Homo sapiens: one gene and its partner. The protein of the gene in region 2 interacts with the protein of the main gene of each other region in a pairwise test. Each region holds a gene or a part of one and is shown on either strand. Other genes may lie near its edges.

Evidence for each region. The genes of interacting proteins can lie anywhere in the genome.
Region 1: the proteins of STAT5A (region 2) and HELZ interact in a two-hybrid assay, tested with the Homo sapiens proteins (one large-scale study listed by BioGRID).

What each region holds. Positions count from the first base shown.
Region 1 is NC_000017.11:67,238,697-67,242,196, forward strand, and holds part of HELZ (probable helicase with zinc finger domain), read right to left. Parts: intron 794-3,500; 5' UTR 737-793; intron 1-736. UniProt on the Homo sapiens protein: May act as a helicase that plays a role in RNA metabolism in multiple tissues and organs within the developing embryo.
Region 2 is NC_000017.11:42,298,498-42,301,997, reverse strand, and holds part of STAT5A (signal transducer and activator of transcription 5A), read right to left. Parts: intron 2,248-3,500; coding exon 2,117-2,247; intron 1,869-2,116; coding exon 1,717-1,868; intron 1,284-1,716; coding exon 1,128-1,283; intron 724-1,127; coding exon 544-723; intron 1-543. UniProt on the Homo sapiens protein: Carries out a dual function: signal transduction and activation of transcription. Mediates cellular responses to the cytokine KITLG/SCF and other growth factors. Mediates cellular responses to ERBB4.

The DNA of each region.
Region 1 (3,500 bases), about 25 Mb from region 2:
TAATAATTTTAACTCTGATGCCTCATAAGGAAAGTATTAAAAGCCTTCTAATTTATTTCTGTAGTATTACCATTTTCTAAGTGTAATAATGAAAGACGAAGACACCATAGCTGACCAAGAAGATTAATTACTGTGAAATAATAAATACTCAAGACTAAACTGTTTTTAATTAACAGGTATTTCAGCAAAAAGTAAATAATCTGAAAGACTAATAGTATCAATAGAGGTAGTACAACCACTAGGAAAAAAAGTTCAACCTTTTGTTTCTATTGATATGTTCTCCATATTTAGATCCTCAAAACTGCAGATATATACAGTCATTCATGACACTATGTAAATAGCAGATAACAGGAAAAACAATTCAATACTTAACCAAGTTCACTGGAGCACAAAGTAATCGCCACTCAAGAATGCTGACACAAAAACTGAAGGACCTCTCAAGTTCCAATAGCACGCAGATAAGCTGAGCCCCTATGCAGTTACTCATCTGAACAGAAGTGGAAGATTAACCTACCCTCACTCATTTCACACACTAACCTGACAAGGCAGCAGGCAGTCTCTTCGGAGCTTGTTCATCATTCAGTCTGTTCCAGAAGTAACCGATTCCGTTAGGATCTGTGCCTTCAGGTTACCACTGTTTCACTACAGCCCTGTATCACTTCACCCTTGTCCCACCTTATTCTTTCAGGCATTATAAAATTCTTGTTTTCTAAATAAAGTTCTAAACCTTACTCACCTGCAGTTCACTGCACTGGGTATCACCCAAATAGCCCATCAGAGCTCTTTATAATTTCTGAAAGACAAAGAAGAAAGTTTTTTTAATACATAGTAGAAAACACCATTCACCAAGATATCAGTTCCAAAGCATTTGTATCCAATATTCCCAGCATATGGTCTTTTGGTCCACACTAGTTCAATAAAATGTAGCATGACCAGCACTAGACCAAGAGTCTTGAGATAAGCCTCCAAAGATTAAAAACAAGCTTGGTTTAATGTTGCTACTACTGAGCTGTGTGACCTTGAGCAACTCATTTAATTTCTTCAGGCCTATATTTCCTTATCTGGAAAATAAGTCACTTAGACTAGCTAGAGAAAGAAGAGCACAGGCTTTCCAGGAAGAACACCAGCTCCACTACTTTACTGGTCTCGTGACGTTACATTAGTTGAGTCACACTTAAGCCTGAATTTCTTCCTTTGTAAAATGGAAATAACTATCTCGTGAGTTGCTATGAGAATTAAAGGAGATGATGAGTTATAAAAAGCCTATAGTAAATATACTGTGCAGCTTATCCTAAAATTCAACAGATGGTAATTCATTACTACCATTAACCCCCACCAGCCCTAACATTACATGAATTCAATTCATGCATATTTCTTTTAAAAGATCAACAAATCAAAACTTTACCAACCTGACTAAAGAACTAACTGTTTTCATGTTTCACAATTCAAATTACAGTTATCTTAAGCTGATGGTAGTTTATCATTATTACTTATCACAGAAAATAAGAACAGAATAGTCCCTGCACAACATCCAAACTCTGGTTCAATGACCATGCCTTTTCTGACTTCTCACTCTACTTCCACACTGCCAGAATATCTCAGGAATAGAGAGGTCTTCCAAAAGCTAAATGACACCCAGCTGTTTGCCAGATTCAGCTCAAGGGAGCAGGACTAGAGACAGAAGAAGAACAGAGGCTTTTCTTTTTTTTAACCTTTTTTACTTTACATAAGTACTGCTCAAATTTGTTTACCATAAGCATACAGGAGTTTTGCATAAAAGTAAATAATTTTTTAAAACTGTATTAGTTAAACACGTTGCCTACTGACAGGAAGCTCGCATTATAGGACATTTTCATCACAACAAAGATAATTTCTGCAGAAGGAAGCAAAAAGGCAAATTCAGATGTGACAAGAACACCTAAAATATAGCACAGAAATGACAAAAATCACAAACATTCACACTTCAGAATAGTTCAGTCAACAAAGATGCCATGCATTCTTTGAAGAACCTGACGATGAATCAAGTTCTTTTTTGTTCAAAGACAAGATATATGTATACACTCTGCTTTACCAAACAACTTCCTGCTCTTACTTGGAGAAACTGACCCAGTACAATTCACAAAAGTAAACAAGTTGGTATGACTGTTGGTATTAGTTGAAAAACTTTCCATTTCTTTTGAATAATTAAAAGTTGACCAAAATAGTTATTACATGTATATATAAATAAAATTCTTCCTGTTACATCTACAGTGGTCTTTTAAAAAGAGGAATATTCACTTCTAACAGATTCAAGATTACTGAAAACTATTATCCCAGCCACCCTCAAAGCAATAAACCATCATGTTATATGCTGCTTCTAGCCAATGCTACAGAAGTAACCCTGACTGCACTCATCAACTGAAATGAATGGTAAGATAGTATGGCATACTCTCCACTTGTATCACTTTTCTTCTAGAAAACATTTCAAAACATTACTTAGAAATCCAATTACATCTGCATGTATATTCACCTAAGTTTATGAAAATTAAACCTAAAAATTTGCTTATAATTTTTTAAGTAGTTCCTCCCCATCTCTTGGATAACTGTTGTTGATACACCTGGCCCGAAATCTTCTATACATTTGAAACAACAGGCAAAGGTCCTTATTTCTTGTATGGGGCCTGTATTTGGATCTTAGGGTCTCTGACAGACAATTATAGACTAATCTACATTCAATATTAATGCCAAGCCTACTGCTTAAATAGAGAACACATGCATCTGTAAGATCTGGGCTACTTACTTGTAGGTCCCTCTGCACTATTCTTAGCCTTTCATGAATATGCTGTAGATTTTTTAATTACACGAGGCCCTTTGCAAGTAAAAATGACTTTTCCTGTTGTTTTGGCATCACTCCTCTTCCAGTGAAAACTGGACAGTCTATAAATATATACCAACTTTAAGACAATGCATTTTAATATCTATGGCATTAGAAAATAAAACTTCTTGTTAACAAATGCAATAATCAAGTTTACCAGCTAATAGAAAGGTACTTACTCCCAAAAACTACAGCCTTACCTAAAAATAGTGTCCTAGCTTCCCAGCCAAAAGGACAGACTAAAAAAGCTCTGTCTTTATTCAGCTCAGAGACACAGACTTCTACCTCACCACAACCTTCAATACTATGGCATTTCCCATTTTAGAATACTTTGTGTAACAAGTTGTTCAGTGGCCAACCACTAACTTCGCTTTGAAATGAATACTAACACTTCACAGAGTCTACATGTGTGAGAACTGTGGAAAATGTCTTGACACAATTCAGGTCAAACAACACTAGCCACACAAGATTACCTACTTCTAAGTATTCCATTTTAGACTACAAACAAACATCTCCACAGTCAAAAAGCAGACCACTGGCTCCTTTCCACAAAATTATCTGTAGGCTTCAAGAAAAAAGATAAGGCCAGGCATGGTGGCTCACGCTTGTAATCCCAGCACTTTGGGAGGCCAAGGCGGGCAGATCA
Region 2 (3,500 bases):
GCGATGAGGGTCTCCCTATATTGTCCAACTCAAACTTTTGGGCTCAAGTGATCCTCCGACCGTGGCCTCCCAAAGTGCTGGGATTACAGGGGTAAGCCACGGCATCTAGCCTAGCACCAAGCTTGTTGCAGGGACAGGGAAGGCATCTGAGTAGGAGGAAGGCAGTGTACCATCTGTCCCAGATTTAATGATGGTTTGACATGATTGTTTGAATTTACAATGGTGTGAAGCAATACACTTTCAGGAGAAAGTGGTGTGATAGTCTCTCACAATGCTGGGCAGTGGCAGTGAGCCTCAGCTCTCCGGCAGCCACACCATCCCCAGGGTAAAGAACGGATACTCGGCTGGGTGTGGTGGCTCACGCCTATCAACTCAGCACTTTGGGAGGCTGAGGTGGGAAGACTGCATGAGTCCAGGAGTTCGAGACCAGCCTGGGCAACACGGTGAACTAGGGGACAAGACATAGCTGGATGCAAGGACAAAGCGGGGGGTGCAGGTCCCCCACACCTAAGCTTGGGCAGGGGAAGGGAGAGGCACAATTACTTGCGGGTGTTCTCATTTTTAAGCAGAGACTTGGCCTGCTGCTCACTGATGATGGTGGCCTTCACCTGGGGGGGATTCATGTGCACGTTCAGCTTCCCGCCCACCAGCAGGCGTACGGTGGCTGCAAACTTGGTCTGGGTCTTCAGGACCTGAGGAGGCTGCTTCTCAATGATGAATGTGCTGCATGGGACACAGGGACAGACACACGATGAGGGGTTGGCGCAGGGGAAAGGGCTCTCAGTCCCTCTGTGGTGGGGGTGGGGCTGCCTCCCATGGGGCTCAGGAGGTGATGAGCTCGGGCACAACCTCTGTTCCCGGGGAAGCTGTGAGAGTCCAGGGAGAGGATGGAGAGGGGAGTGAGATAACACAGCAGCTGGCATGGGCTGCGGCCCAGGGTATCTCTTGCAGTGTCCACAGGAGAAACTGGGCAAGGGCGGCACCTAGCAGCCACAGCAACTGGAGATGGAGTTGGGAGGGATGAGAGGCAGGAAGTGGATCTGCTGGTCTGGAAGGCACCTGCAGCTCCCCCCACGCAGGCAGGAGCTGCCCCAAGCTCCTGGGCATGGCAAACAGGCAGCAGTCACCTGGTCACCAGGGCTGAGATAATGTCCGTGATGGTGGCGTTGACCTCGGCCAGCATCTCCTCCACTGGGCCGGGGATGGGCAGCTGCTGGCAGAGGTGCTCAGCCCTGCGGATCTGCTGCCGGTTCTGCCAGATGATCTCGGCCAACTTCTCACACCTGCACGAGAGCCCCAAGGCCAACAGGAGGACAATGGCTTCTCCTCACAGACGCCAGGCCCCAAGACACAGCTCCCGTTCCCCCAGGAAGGCTCTGTGCTTTCGCCACACTTCCCACCCATGGGAAGAGCAGAGCTCCCTGCCTCCCAGAATTAGAGACGTACACAGGAGGGGCGACCCTGACTAGGCCCAAACAGCCCAAGCATCACCCCACACACCCGAGCCCCATCCCACCCCCAGGACAGCAGCCCCCTTCCTGGGGGAGGTGCACAGGATGGGGACCAAAGTCTGATTGAGGAACCAGGCTCCCTGGAGAAACAAGAGCTGTCCCAGGATGGAGGGGGCCTGCTGCAGGAGCCAGCACAGGACGCAGAAGCAGCCGGGGTCCCCACCAGCCCCTCCTGCCCTGCCCGCTGGCCGCCCCACACCATTACCAGGACTGTAGCACGTCCAGGCTGCCCTCGGGGGGCCCGCCGTTCCCGGCCAGCTGCTGCCGCCGCTTCCACTGGATCAGCTCGTCATCCAGGATGATGGTCTGCTGCTTCCGCAGCAGCTGCAGGGTCTTCTGGTGCTTCTCGGCCAGCTCCTGAGGGAAGGGAGGAGAGCAGCCCCTTCTGGGCTCCCAGAGAACACCGCAGGGCCTCGCTGGGAAATGGCAGGGCAGGGCCCAGGCCGTTCCCTCTCCCCAAGCTGCTCTGCCTCGCAAGGCCCCCAGGAAAAAAGGCCTCCTGCCCTCCCAGGTTCTGCTCTCATGCTGGTCCCAGCCCTCCCTCGGGTCCCCAGAGACTGACTTCATGGCACCCACGCCCAGGAGAGGCCCAGGACCCCACTCACCACGCGGTACTGCTGCAGTGTCTGTGCCTCACGCTGCAACCAGGCCTCCAGAGACACCTGCTTCTGCTGGAGGGCCGTCTCCCGGCTCAGACGCTCCTGGGGGCTCAGCTGGGCCAGCTGGGCAAACTGAGCTAGAGGAGAGAAGAGGAAACCATGACCATCACCTCCTAGTGTCCAACAGGAGGCCTAGAGAAGCCCACTCACCTGTTCTGGAGCGAGACCCTCCCAGGCTCAGACACTGCATCAAGAGCAAGTCGGGGTTCCTGACAGCCAGGGGGGCCAAGATGAATGGCGCCTCAGGAGGCGCCTCTGGGCCCTGCTCACCAGCCTCCTGACTCTGAGCCGTCCCCTCTGGGGGCACACGGGTGCTGGGGCAGCTGGGGAGGAGGCCTGCCTGCCTCCTGCCCGCCTGCCTCACAGGGCTGCCAGCCCTCTTCTCGCGTCCCAGCATGGGTCCAGGCTGTCTGGGGTGTAAGTGTGCCCATGCCCTTGACTGCAGGTGAACCTGGGCAAATCGCTTTCCTTTCCTGTGCCTCAGCTTCCCCACGTGTAAAACGGGAGATTCTCAGCACCTGCCTCAGTGGGGTGCTTGAAGATTAAATACATGAGGACATGGAAGATGCCAGAAAGCTGCCTGACATGGGTGAGCTCTGTGTGAGGTTCGTGCTTCTTGGTTAACGGGGAACAGGACAGAGAGAAGAGGTGACAGAGACAAGCAGCTGCTCGGCCCCATCCCTCCCGCAGCAAGGCCTCTTCAGGGAACCCCAGCCCCGGCGGCTCTGTCTCGTCCCTGAGCACAGCAGTCCCTCCTCAGGGGAGGATGAGATTCTTGAGGGGCTGGAAGGGGCCCAGCATGTTTGTCCAGGTGGGCTCACTGTGAGCCCAGCCGACCAACCAGGGGAGACAGACAGATAGACAGACCGCAGAGGGAGAGCGTGTCCAGGGCCACTGGGGATGCAGAGCCACCAAGATTCTCTCAGGAAAGGGAGGCCGAAGGGAGGCGGCTTCCCTCCACACCATCTGTGAGGAGTCTCATTGATGGCGGGACAGGGAATAAGTCAGGCCTCACTAGCTTTTAAAAAGTATCCATCATGGGGCTGGGCGCAGTGGCTCACGCCTGTAATCCCAGCACTTTGGGAGACTGAGGCGGGCAGATCACGAGGTCAGGTGATCGAGACCATCCTGGCTAGAGACCATCCTGGCTAACACAGTGAAACCCCATCTCTACTAAAAACACAAAAAATTAGCCGGGCATGGTGGCGGGTGCCTGTAGTTCCAGCTACTAGGGAGGCTGAGGCAGGAGAATGGCGTGAACCCAGAAGGTGGAGCTTGCAGTGAGCCGAGATTGGGCCACTGCACTCCAGCCTGGGCGACAGAGCTAGAC